3 separate regions of the Homo sapiens genome follow, and all the other regions are linked to region 3. Evidence: fine-mapped expression QTL. A gene starts in region 3. Each other region holds a variant in brackets. All regions are shown on one strand. Distances are from middle to middle.

Region 1 (4,244 bases), 80 kb after region 3:
CAGATGATCCGCCCACCTTGGCCTCCCAAAGTGTTGGGATTACAGGCGTGAGCCACTGCACCCGGCCGAGCTTTTTATTTCAGTTGGAGAAAAGGCATGCAAATTTATTAACGTGCACATGGGAGAGAATCACAGAATGATTACTCCGTAGCCTTTCTTATTCAAAGTATAATATCACATCAAGAATCATTTGGTTATATCTACCTTAGGGAACATTTTTTAATTGATGGTAACAATATTATACATTTGTATAACTTGTTCACATCCCTGTTTTATGTGAACTCCATGTAAAAGTGAGTATTGACTTCATTTCAATTAGGTGAAAACTGAGGCCATTAGATTGCATTCAAAATTAAATGACACAAAACTATCATAGTAGTCATGTATTCTTCACTGCCATGTATTCGCAGGAAGAAAAAAAATTTAGAAGCTAGTAAGAAATCCAGTACTAAGAATTTGGTCTCCTGACTCCTAGTCCAGTTTTTGTTTGTTCGTTTTTGTTTTTGAGATGGAGTCTTGTTCTTTCGCCGAGGCTGGAGTCTAGTGGTGTGATCTCAGCCCACTGCCATCTCCACCTCCTGAGTTCAAGAGATTCTCCTGCCTCAGCCTCCCAAGTAGCTGGGTCCACAAGCATGCACCACCACATCTGGCTAATTTTTGTGTTTTCAGTAGAGACAGGGTTTCACCATGTTGGTCAGGCTGGTCTCGAACTCCTGACTTCAAGTGATCCGCCTACTTCCGCCTCCCAAAGTGCTGGGATTAATAGGCATGAGCCACGGCACCCAGCCCTAGCCCAGTGTTTTCTGCTTAACTGCTGCCTTTAAATAAATGAAATATTCTCTTGTGAAATACTATATTTTGTGGAGACAAGGGAACATTTTTAGATAGGTGTTTTCTAAAGATTTACTAAATCTTAAAAATTACCAGGTTTGGCTAATCACTGTTGAAATGTCAAACCAGTTCTCTAACAAGATTTCTAATTCTGTTATTAGTTATTAATTTTGATAATTGTCATATAAAGCAATTTGCTTTTTTTTTTTTTTTTTTTTTTTTGAGACAGACTCTCGCTCTGTCTCCTAGGCTGAAGTGCAGTGGCGCGATCTCCGCCCACTGCAACCTCCTCCTCTCCTGCCTCAGTCTCTGGAGTGGCTGGGATGGCCTGGCTAATTTTTGTATTTTTAGTAGAGACAGGATTTCACCATGTTGGCCAGGCTGGTCTTGAACTCCTGACTTCAAGTGATCTGCCTGCCTCTGCCTCCCAAAGTGCTGGGATTACAGGTGTAATCCATGCCCAGCCTTAGCAATTTGCATTTCAAAGCAAAATTACATAATATTAAGAGTTAGACTGATCTGAAGTAAAATATTACAAATAGTAGAGAAAGAAAGATTTTTCTGTTCTTTAGAAATAATTAGTGTGCTTTCCTATGTTGATCTTGGTGATGTTAGGAGTCCTGAAGCTTTTTCAAGGTAATGATGTTCTGCCTTTTTCTGAAATCTGTGTACTTCAGATCATCTTAAGCATTTTGTGGTCATTGGAAAGATTTAAATTTTCTTCTTTCATCTCCACTGACTTAGTGTGTGTTGTTTCCAAATTTAGAATCTTTAGACTTTAAATTCTATTTGTTGCAAATAATAATTCTGGATCCAAAAATTGTCAAGGTGCATGTTTTAAATAGAAAACACCAGAGTACATGATAAGTGCACAAATAATCTGAGAAAGGAACGAAGCTCGAACGTGATGGTAGCTCACTGTGGTAGAAAATGCCAAAAGTGTTATTGTTTCTATCAAATGAAATTTAGTGCCCTTCTACACTTATACTAAGAAAAATTTAGGTTGCCTGTTTTTAAAAAGGTACCGTTTTCGGGACTGGCGCGGTGGCTCACGCCTGAAATCCCAGCACTTTGGGAGGCCGAGGTGGGCGGATCATGAGGTCAGGAGATCGAGACCATCCTGGCTAACACAGAGAAACCCCATCTCTACTAAAAATACAAAAAATTAGCCGGGCGTGGTGTCAGGCGCCTGTAGTCCCAGCTACTCGGGAGGCTGAGGCAGGAGAATGGCGTGAACCCAGGAGGCAGAGCTTGCAGTGAGCCGAGATCACGCCACTGCACTCTAGCCTGGATGACAGAGCAAGACTCCATCT[CA/C]AAAAAAAAAAAAAACAAAACAGTACTGTTTTCAGGGCCCCAATACCAGGTGCTTGGAAACAATAGATGAGTTTGGAGAAGAGTGGCTTTAAAGGTTGTAACTGTTTATAAAACACTTGCGCTTATCGAATTTGGACTGCATTCTGAATCATAAATATAATAGGAGGACTTCAACATTTTTAGTGTCAAAATAATAAATGATGGTAGGAGCTCGATTTAATTTTTATAAAGTCATAATCAAACTAGTTAAATGTTGCCACAAGTATCATTCAGTTATTGTTTGTAGCTTTTCAGTCAGGCAGAATGATTTGCCAAGTAGGTAAGGGCATAAATAGGCCAGTGGCTTATTTATTTATTTATTTATTTATTTATTTATTTATTTATTTATTTAGAGATAGAGTCTCTCTCTGTCACCCAGACTGGAGTGCAGTGGCATGATATTAGCTCAGTACAACCTCTGCCTCCCGAGTTCAAGCGATTCTCTTACCTCAGCCTCCTGAGTAGTTGGGATTACAGGTGTGCACCACCTCACCCAGCTAATTTTTGTATTTTTAGTAGAGACAAGGTTTTGCCATGTTGGTCAGGCTGGTCTCGAACTCCTGGCCTCAAGTAATTTGCCCACCTTGGCCTCCCAAAGTGCTGGGATTACAGGCATGAGCCACCATTCCTGGCCACCAGTGGCTTTTAAAGGATGGAGTGGAATTGGTTTTGCCACATAACCACTGTCAAAAAACCCATCATGCTCTGTTTTAGGATCTTATCTTACAAGTACTTGTCTTGCAGTCAAAATAAGCAAGAGAAGAGTGAAGCCAGAGAAGCACTACAGTGCCGCTTCTCCTCTGTCGTCATCTTCACCAGAGGCAGATGACTTCTTTATAGCAAGGCCCAGCCACATTTCACGGGGCAAGCAGTGGTTTAAGTGGTAGGGCTTTAGTGAAACATGTATGTCTTCCTTTCTCCTGCCTTGAAGCCAGAGACATTACTAGAAAGAACTCTTGGCCCTGTTAAGGGTTCCCAGTGTGGTGTGCTGTTGCTTAAATAAGCAGGTCATAGAGTTGGCTCAGATTTAAGGGATTTAAGGGAAATAGATTACATATCCAATAGGAAGGGCTGCAAAGAGCTTATGACCATGTTTAAACCCCAACCTGTGTATGTATATGTATGCATATCCCATCAGTACACACACACCTCTCTGCAAATAGGTGTTTGTGTGCACACACACCTCTCTGCAAATAGGTGTTTGTGTGCACACACACTTCTAAATTTTAGATAGCTAGAAGTAGTTTAGGTTAGTTTTCTTCTGGTGTCAGTTATTTTGCTTCATTGTTTTCCAGAATGCTTTGGAAAGTTTTCCTGAACTAACAATAATTACTCGAGATTCTAAAGCAAAGAGTGGAGGAACTGCTATTTCTAAAATCAAAATGAATGGCAAAGCCTATAATAAGAAAACTCTAAGGACTTCTAAAACAACCACCAAATCTGCACAAGTAAGTGTAATTGATTATTAATGTAACTATACCTTTTCCAATTGTTAATACAATTCCTACTTAAAACATTGAAACAAGCAAATATTTTACTATGTTGTCATTAAGTGTGAAGGTTTTTCAGGTAGGAATAAGCGTCACTGGCCTGAGGAACAGGGACGCATGGTGGTTTATTGTTTTTCTATAGCACAGTATCAGGCATATAATATGTGCTCACAAATTTCTTAAATTGACTAATATGGAAGAAATCATCTCGTGCTCATGTTTATATATTTGTAGGTAGTTTTTCATTTTTTAAATTGCATATATTATGTACAAAATGTTTTGAAATGTGTGTACATTGTGAAATGGCTAATTCAAACTCATTAACATATGCATTACTTGTAATATAGGTATATTTTTAATTGTATATGCATGCACATAGATAAGTAAGTGTGCAGAACACATTCCATAAAAAGATGAAATGTTTATTTCATATCTGCAAAGTCATTAAAATTGGAATTTGTTCATCTTCAAACATAGTATAAATTGTTATAACCTTTTCAGAAAACAGTTTGGCAACATATCAACTTCACAGCAAAAATGTATTCAGGGCTAAGCACAATGGCTCAAGCC
Region 2 (4,244 bases), 98 kb after region 3:
ACAGCCACTCCCCATTGCTCACATTACTGCCTGAGCTCCACCTCCTGTCAGATCAGTCACGGCGTTAGATTCTCATAGGAGCAGAACCCTACTGTGAACCACGCGTGCAAGGGATCTAGAATCTTATGCTCCTTAGGAGAATCTAACTAATGCCTAATGATCTGAGGTGGAATAGTTTCATGCCAAAACCATCACCCCCACTCCTGGTCTGTGGAAAGATTTTCTTCCATGAAACTGGTCCCTGGTGCCAAAAAGGCTGGGGACTGCTGCCATAAATGACAGCAGGACCCCAGATGAATTTCTATTAAATCATCTGCTAAATACCAGAAGTAATGACCCTATCAATATTGCAGTCTGTTCAAAATGTAGCAAGACGAGCCACAGACAAAACCCCTCAGACACCAAGTTAAAGAAGGAAGGGCTTTATTCGGCCAGGAGCATCGGCAAAACTCACATCTCAAAAACCGAGCTTCCATAGTGAGCAATTCCTGTCCCTTTTAAGGGCTTACAGCTCTAAGGGGGTCCACATGAGAGGGTCGTGATCGATTGAGCAAGCAGTGGGTACATGACTGGGGGCTGCATGCACCGGTAATCAGACAGAACAGAACAGGACAGGGATTTTCACAATGATTTTCCATACAATGTCTGAAATCTATAGATAACACAAGTAGTTAGGTCAGGGGTTGATTTTTAACTACCAGGCCCAGGGCGTGGTGCTGCGCTATCTGCCTGTGGATTCCATTTCTACCTTTTAGTTTTTACTTCTTCTTTCTTTGGAGGAAGAAATTGGGCATAAGACAATATGAGGGGTGGTCTCCTCCCTTAAAAACACATTACAATGCTATAGTAATTAAAACAGTGTGGTGCTGACATAAAGACAAATGCACAGACCAATGGAACAGAATAGAATGCCCAGAAATAATCCTTCATGTATATGGTCAACTGAATTTTCTTCTGTTCTTTTGCACAAATAATTTTTGACAAGAGTGCCACAACCACACTATATGGAAAGGACAGTGTCTTCAACAAATGGTGCTGATAGAACAATATCCACCCATGAAAGTTGGAAGTTGGAACCTCACCTTACACTATATAAGATATTTTATCTCAAAATGGATTAAAGACCTAAATATAAGACCTAAAACTATAAAACTCTTAGAAGAAGAAAACATAGGAGGAAAGTTTCATGACATTGTACTTGGCAATGATTTCTTGGATATGACACCAAAGGCACAGGCAATGAAAGTGAAAATAGATACATGGGACTACATCAAACTCAAAAACTCCTGCATACCAAAGGAAAGAACAAAGTGCAAGGCAACTTACAGAATTAAAGAAAATAATTACAAATTACACATCTAATAAAAGGTTAATATCCAGAATACATAAAGAACTCCTACAACTCAAAAACAAAAAAAAAGTAGCCCATTTAAAAAACAAGCAAAGCACCTGAACACGTATTTCTCCAAAAAAGATATACAAATACAAACAAGCATATGAATTAATGCTCATCATCACCAACCATTAAAGAAATGCAATTCAAAATTACAACAAGGTATCACCTCACACCCATTAGGATGGCCATGGGAAGGGAAGGGATGGGAAGGGGAGGGGAGAGGAGGGGAGTGGAGGGGAGGGGAGTGGAGGGAAGGGAGTAGTGGCTGATGTCTGTAATTCCAGCATTTTGGGAGGCCGAGGCAGGAGGATCACTTGAGCCCAGGAATTTGAGACCAGCTTGGGAAACACAGTGAGACTCTATATATTTTTTAAAAATTGTATAAAGAAAAAAAAATAAGTGTTGGTGCATATGTGGAAAAACTGGAACACTTGTGCATTGCTGGTGGCAATGTAAAATGGTTCAGTCACCATGGAAAATCAGTAAGGATATTCCCCAACAAACTAAACATAGAATTACCTTATGATCCAGCAATCTCACTTCTGGATACATATCCAAAAGATATGAAAGCAGGGTCTAGAGATATTTGCATACCCATATTAATTACATTATTCACAATTACAAAAATGCCTAAATGCCCATTGACAGATGAACAGATAAAGAAAATATGGTATATCTATACAATGGAATATTATTCAGACTTAAAAATACAAGGAAATCCTGCCACATATTACAAC[C/T]TGGATTAACCTTGAGGACATTATGCTAAGTGAAATAAGCCAGTAACATAAAGATAAATACTGTATGATTCCACTTATAGGAGGTATATAGAGTAGTCAAAATCATAGAAACAGAATTGTGGTTCCTAGAGGCTGGGAGAGGGGAAAAAAGGAGTTGTGGGATGGATACAGACTTTCAGTTTTGCAAAATAAAAAGTTTCTAGAGATCTGGTACACAAGAAAGTGAAAAATAGTTAACACCACTGAACCGTATACTTAAAATAGTTAAACAGCCAGCCTGGGCAACATAGGGAGACCCCCATCTCTACAAAAAGAAAAGAAAGAAGAAAAAATTAGCCCAGCATGTTGGTTCATGCCTGTGGTCTACGCTACTTGAGAGGCTGAGGAGGGAGAATTGCTTGGGCCCAGGAGATTGAGGCTGCAGTGAGCCATGATCATGTGGTTTCTCTCCAGCCTGGTGACAGAGTGAGCCCCTGTCTAAAATAAATAAATAAATAAATAAATAAATAAATAAATAAATAAATAAATAAAGATTAAGAGGGTAAAAGTCTATACTATGTGTTTTTTACCAAAATTAATGGCCATCAGTTATAAAAGGTCTTGAGTTTGATATATTGATAAATTAAATTCTTTGGAAATTTCCTCTAATTCTTTTACCTTGATTTTAAAAGTGAGGATACCCTCCCTATCCACAGTTGACTGAGCTAGAAATAATAGAAATCATTTTTGATACTTTCATTCTCTGACCACATCTAATCATCCACCTAGTTCTATACATTCACTGAGCACCATACACATCAATTAATAGGTGCAGAAGAAATACGCATAGAAGGAAGGAAGGAAGAAATCTGTTCAACTTTCCCTTCCCCACCTCCATCTAACTTCCCTTCAGTACAAACTAATAGTACTTTTTAGACCAAGTCCTTATCACCTGTCTCTTTCATGCTTCACTGGTCTCCTTGCCCTCAGATTCTTTTTTTTTTTTTTTTTAAGACAAGGTCTCACTCTGTCACCCAGGCTGGAGTGCAATGGCACGATCTCGGCTCACTGCAACCTCCACCTCCTGGGTTCAAGCGATTCTTCTGCCTCAGCCTGTAGCTGGGACTATAGGCACATGCCACGACGCCCAGCTAATTTTTGTATTTTTAGAAGAGACGGGGTTTCACCATATTGGCCAGGCTGGTCTCGAACTCCTGACCTTGTGATCTGCCTGCCTTGGCCTCCCAACATGCTGGGATTACAGGCGTGAGCCACCGCATCTGGCTTGCCCCCAGATTCGTAATCCTCCAATCTAATCTGCACACTGTCACCAGAATTTGTCTCCTTGATTACCAGACTGGTCATGATGTGGCCCACCTTATATTTCCTACCTAGTTTCCCATTAGATCTCCCATCTCTATAATTATAGACACAACTCTGAAGCTACACAAGTTTTTTTCTTTGTTTTTGCTGAGCACGCCATTTTAAGCATGCTTTCATGCTTTTATTGACCATATTTCTTCTGCCTACCAAGAAGTCTTCCTCCTCCCCTTCCTCTTCTATCCAGTAAACATCCTTTAACACTCAAGTTTAACATAGCTCCATAGAGAAGACTACTATTTTCCCTCAGACAGTCTGAGAAACTCCTCCTGTGATCCCAAATAATTCTGAGCATCCTGTTTTCTATCACTTCTCACATGGCCATGGAATTGTTTTTAGACATCTTAGCTGTTCCCACCATATGGAAATTGAAAACAGGTAATAGTGTCCTATTTCTCTTTTTATACCTCAATCCTAGCACACTGTTAAGTACATATTAGTTGCCTGATAATGTTTATTTACTTTTAACCTATCCATGTCTTTGAATCTAACCTGTATCTTTTGCAGACAGTATATTGTTGGATCATGCTTTTTTTTAAGCCATTCTGCCAATCTCTGTCTTTTGAGTAGAGTTTTTAATCCATTCATGTTTAATGTCATTATAATAAAGTAGGGTTTCTTTCTGACATTTTGCTATTTGTTTTCTAAAGGTTTATGTCTTTTTTCTTTTTCCATTTTCCATTATTGCCTTTTTTGTGCTAAATAGATTTTCTAGTGTACCATCTTAATTCCCTGAGCTTTATGTTCAGTTT
Region 3 (4,244 bases):
GATCATCTGAGGTCAAGAGTTCGAGACTAGCCTGGCCAAAATGGTGAAACCCGTCTCTACTAAAAATACAAAAAAATTAGCTGGGCGTGGTGGCATGCGCCTGTATTCCCAGCTACTCAGGAGGCTGAGGCAGGAGAATCGCTTGAATCCGGGAGGCGGAGGTTGCAGTGAGACGAGATCACCCCACTGCACTCAAGCCTGGGCGACAGAGCGAGACTGTCTGAAAAAACGAACAAACAAAAACACGGGACCAACAATGCTCATTCTAGAGTTTGACATTACCTAGATCAGACTTGAAGCAGCTTGGTTACGAATCATTTGAGAGATCCCGAAACGTTCACAGAGCTGGAAGTATATTTTCAGTAGGGAAGAAGACATTCTTCAGATAGTATCATCAAGTGTACAAAATTTTTAAAAGATTTATTTACATATATCAAAGCATCACATTGTACCCCATAAATGTATGCAATTATGATTTGTCAATTAAAAATAGTATTGATAAAAAATGTAATGATGTTATTTGTAGACATGTAACATTTGAAAATAAATATAATTGTACTGATTTAGAGTGAACTAAGGAAATTTCATTTAAATGGCAAAGGAACATATGGTGACAGAGTAATATTACTAAAAATACTCACTAGAATTTTCCCTTAATATCTTTCCCTGATTTATGTGACATAAACAAACTACATAATGGTGTGAGGGACTATAAAGGTTTTATTGCCACTTGTTTGGTATTGCCTGCGTAACTCACTCTGAGTGCCAGTTGTGGGTATCTCAAACTAAGTGTCATAAAACATTTATAGCATGCCACTCCATTTCCTATACTTTTCATAGAGACAAAACTTTAGCGCTCACAAAAGTACTTATAAATATAATAGCTAGTTGTGAAAACTTTTTAATTTAGATCCCACATTTCCAGTTTGCAGGAAGAAAAATAAATGTAATGAAGATTTACGTTACTTCTCTGCATGAACTCAGATTAGTTCGCAAATTCCTTTTCAAAGAAAAACCACTTTTCAAAGATATCCTCAGTAAATGCATTTTGTAATTAACATAAAATTGGCAAAGTCGCTGTGCCTACACGTTTGAATTCATGTGTAAATAACGACTACTCACTTCCTTGCTTCCCCACCCGGGGACCAGGCTCCAAGCATCACAGGTGCAGAAAGACTTGCAAAAAGGAATGAATAGGAACAAAAGGATGTAGGCGCCAGGAGGAAAACAGGATCTTCCAGAACAAAATTAATCTCGCAAGGCATAGCAGATCCAACACCAGATTATTACCAAAGTTTAAACTTTTTCAATGGTCATCAGAGATAGCGTATCAAGTTTATTAGGTCTTTCACTACGGCTGATTTGCTTAAACCTTTATGTTATGCTTATCTTGAGGGATAGATTTCTGTGCTAAGCACATAATAGGTGTTAAACCAATATTGATTTTTAAAAGGAGGTGGTCATTAAATAGAAATTTTACTGTTATTTTAACCTTTAAATTTATGGCCCAAGGGCCAAACGATGATTTGTACGATTCCCTAGTTTCAATACTTGTGAGTTATTACAAGAAATACAACTCTGCTATGCAACAGAAGAACCGCAAATAGTCATTAAATTACCGCACACCAAGCAGCTTGGAGATCAGATAGGAAATGTTTGGGGAGAGAGTCCTGCTGAAGTTCCAAGTCTCAAACAAAACCCCTCAACATCAGAGTGCATGGTGAGTTTAAATTTATTGTAATTAAAGTCATCCAGATGGTAGTTGGATTAATCAATGAAGAGGTGGTTATCTATCTTGGGATAGAAGATTCTGAAACCCAGAGCGAGAAAAATCCCCAAGGTGGGGGTGGGGACAGTTAATAAGAGCCCTTGGGAAAGGCCCTTTCAGCGAGGATTGGAAAATAATACGTTTGAATTTGAATCTCTTTGAATATAAATCTCCCCTAACAGCAGGAAAAGGGTCCTCTAGCCCAGCAAGCTTTGGGGAGGGAGTAAGCGGAACTGCAAAAGAGCTCGCTCAGCTGTTTCTGGATTGGGGCGCAGAGAAAGAAATCGCGATCAGGGAACTGAGTACTGGAGTCCCTCAAAATAACCCGAAGGGTCAAATAGTGAGCTCCAAGCAAAGCGTTGACCCGGCTACCCCTGAGCAGCGCCCTACGCTGGGTTCCACTCCACTTCCCCTCCCCCGCGCGGGGCGATAGCCAGGCGCGGTCCCTTCCCACGCGGGCCGCGGCGAGTGCGGACAGCTCCCTTCCGGGCTGCGGAAGGCGGGAAGTCTGCGGTTCGCGGGCTCCGGCTGGCGGGCGCCCCTCGGAGTCCCTGAAGTCGGCCGGGCCCCGCAGGACCCGCGCCTTCTCGGCCCCAACTGTCCCTCGCGAAGCGTCCTGCGGTGGCGGAGGCCTCGCGGCCGCCCGCCAGCCCCGCGAGCGGCAAGCGCGGGGCTCAGAGGGGAGGCGGGGCAAGGCCGCGGGGCGGAGGGGGGCGGGAGGTGCATCCTGGGAAATCCACCAACATGGGGCGCAGCGGCCGCCGCCGCCGCCGCCGTCGCCGCGAGTCCCGGCCGCGGGTGCCTCCGCTTCCCTGACGCCCAGCTGGGGCCTCGCCGCCCGCCGCGGCCCGGGTCTTTGCGGCCCAGACTCGCCAGCGCGCCCTTCTCCCGCCTGCTCGCCGGGGCCATGTGAGGGGGCAGCTCCCTCCACCGCCGCCGCCCCCTCTTCCTCCCCCGCCCCCTCTCCCTGCCCGCCCCCGTCACACGGAGCCCTGGAGGATCCCCCGCTGCTGCCCGCCCTCCCTACGCCACCCCCACGATGGACAGGAACTACGCGACCTCGGGCTTCACCGAGCCGCCGCCGCCGCCGCCGCCCGCGCCCCCCGCCGCCCCCGTCCCCGCCAGCGCCGCTGCGCAGCCCCCCGCCCCAGCCTGGGCGTACGAACCCCGAGCCGCCGCCGCCGCCGCCAGCAGCAGCTGCAGCAGTGGCAGCTGCAGTAGCGGCAGCAGCCCCAGCCTCAAGGCCAGGTAGGGAGGGTGGGCGGCGGGGTCGCGGTGGACCAGGAAAGGCCGGGGATGCGTTTGGGGCCTTCGCTCGGTTGCAGCGCCGCCCAGAGGTCTGGGCCGGGCGGGGAGCCCTCCGCTCGCCCTCGGCCAGCTCGGGGGAGGCGGCTGATGACTCCTACGGGGTGGTCGCGGGTAGGTGGGGGCGCCCGGTGCAGGATTCGCGCCTGGGGACGGCGGGTGAAGGAATAGCTGGGCGGGAGTCGTGGGGCTCCGTCACCTCTTGGGTCCTGGGCTCTCACATGGTGAAGTTTGGGCTCGTGGCTGAACTCGGGATCTGTGAGACCCAGGATTGGCGCCGGGGGTCCGAAGGGGGCGCCGGAGAGTTTGGGGCAGTGGCGATCCATTGTATTGGAACCTGGGTGGCCGACAATGCGGTCTTGGGGACTCCGGCGTGTGAGGGTTGCGGAGGCGGGAGAGGAAGAGTCGCGGAACCGCGTCCCGGAGACACTGGGGGGCCCGGGAGGGCTGGGCTACGGGAGAATCCCCGGGGCGCAGGGCAGAAGAGGGGGCCCGGCAGGGCGCGAACGCGGCTCCAGGGCCGGGTGACATATGTTTGCGCTGGTGGCCAAGATTTAGGCGATTTTTCTTCCACGCGTTCAAAGTTGCTCTTAGGTTTCCTCCCCTTTTAACAACAGCAGGAAGTAAGGAATCTTTCTTTGCCTTCTATGCCTCGGGGTGACTGAGAGTTGGGAAGAAATGGGGCGGGGGTTGGGGTGGGGGTAGTGAAGGCCGTAAAGGTTGAAGAACCAAAGCATGCTTCTCCATCTCGGCCTTTAAGGTCCGGGTGCATTATGTAGCGTGGGGTTCAAGAGTTCATCTTGCATGACCAAGGGAATCTAAAATTTTGACTCCTACTTGATATTTAAGCTCGCGGGAAATGTGTAGTAGTGCCACACTGTGAAACGGTCCCATTTGAATGATAACTGGAAGGCGTGGTCTGGTTTGGAGAATTGGTGAGCGGGGTGTTTTAAAGCCACCTCTCCCGAACAATACAGAATCTGGTAGGTGCAGCTTCTGATTACATGGACCAGGGAATCCTGGGTTGCTAATGACTTCATCCTCAGCTACCAACAGGAAGCTTCGTGGCTTTATGATCTCATCAGATTTCTTCATTATTTTTCACGACAGAAGTGAACTTTTGTTTTAAGTTTATACATTACCGTGTTCCAGGTTATCTTCTTTGTTTTTA

What was found. PIP is the estimated chance that this variant, and not a neighbour inherited with it, causes the effect. A credible set is the group of variants that fine-mapping cannot tell apart.
Region 1: its variant is the best candidate, but not a certain one, in a credible set for the expression of QSER1 in prefrontal cortex (CommonMind, PIP 0.51).
Region 2: its variant is the best candidate, but not a certain one, in a credible set for the expression of QSER1 in whole blood (INTERVAL, PIP 0.61).

The regions. Positions count from the first base shown.
Region 1 is chr11:32,969,918-32,974,161 of GRCh38, forward strand. QSER1 (glutamine and serine rich 1) reads left to right here. Exons shown (of 13, transcript NM_001076786.3): 11 at 3,480-3,632. All of the region lies in intron 2 of LOC105376615 (a long non-coding RNA gene), which reads right to left. Among named protein-coding and RNA genes, the nearest start is that of DEPDC7, 44 kb to the right of the region's middle. The variant CA/C (reference allele first, on the strand shown) is at 2,145.
Region 2 is chr11:32,988,041-32,992,284 of GRCh38, forward strand. All of the region lies in intron 2 of LOC105376615 (a long non-coding RNA gene), which reads right to left. Among named protein-coding and RNA genes, the nearest start is that of DEPDC7, 26 kb to the right of the region's middle. The variant C/T (reference allele first, on the strand shown) is at 2,134.
Region 3 is chr11:32,890,319-32,894,562 of GRCh38, forward strand. It overlaps QSER1 (glutamine and serine rich 1), which reads left to right and starts at 2,493. Exons shown (of 13, transcript NM_001076786.3): 1 at 2,493-3,016. The coding sequence starts at 2,808. RefSeq lists an enhancer at 844-1,418 and silencers at 2,166-2,785, 2,866-3,265.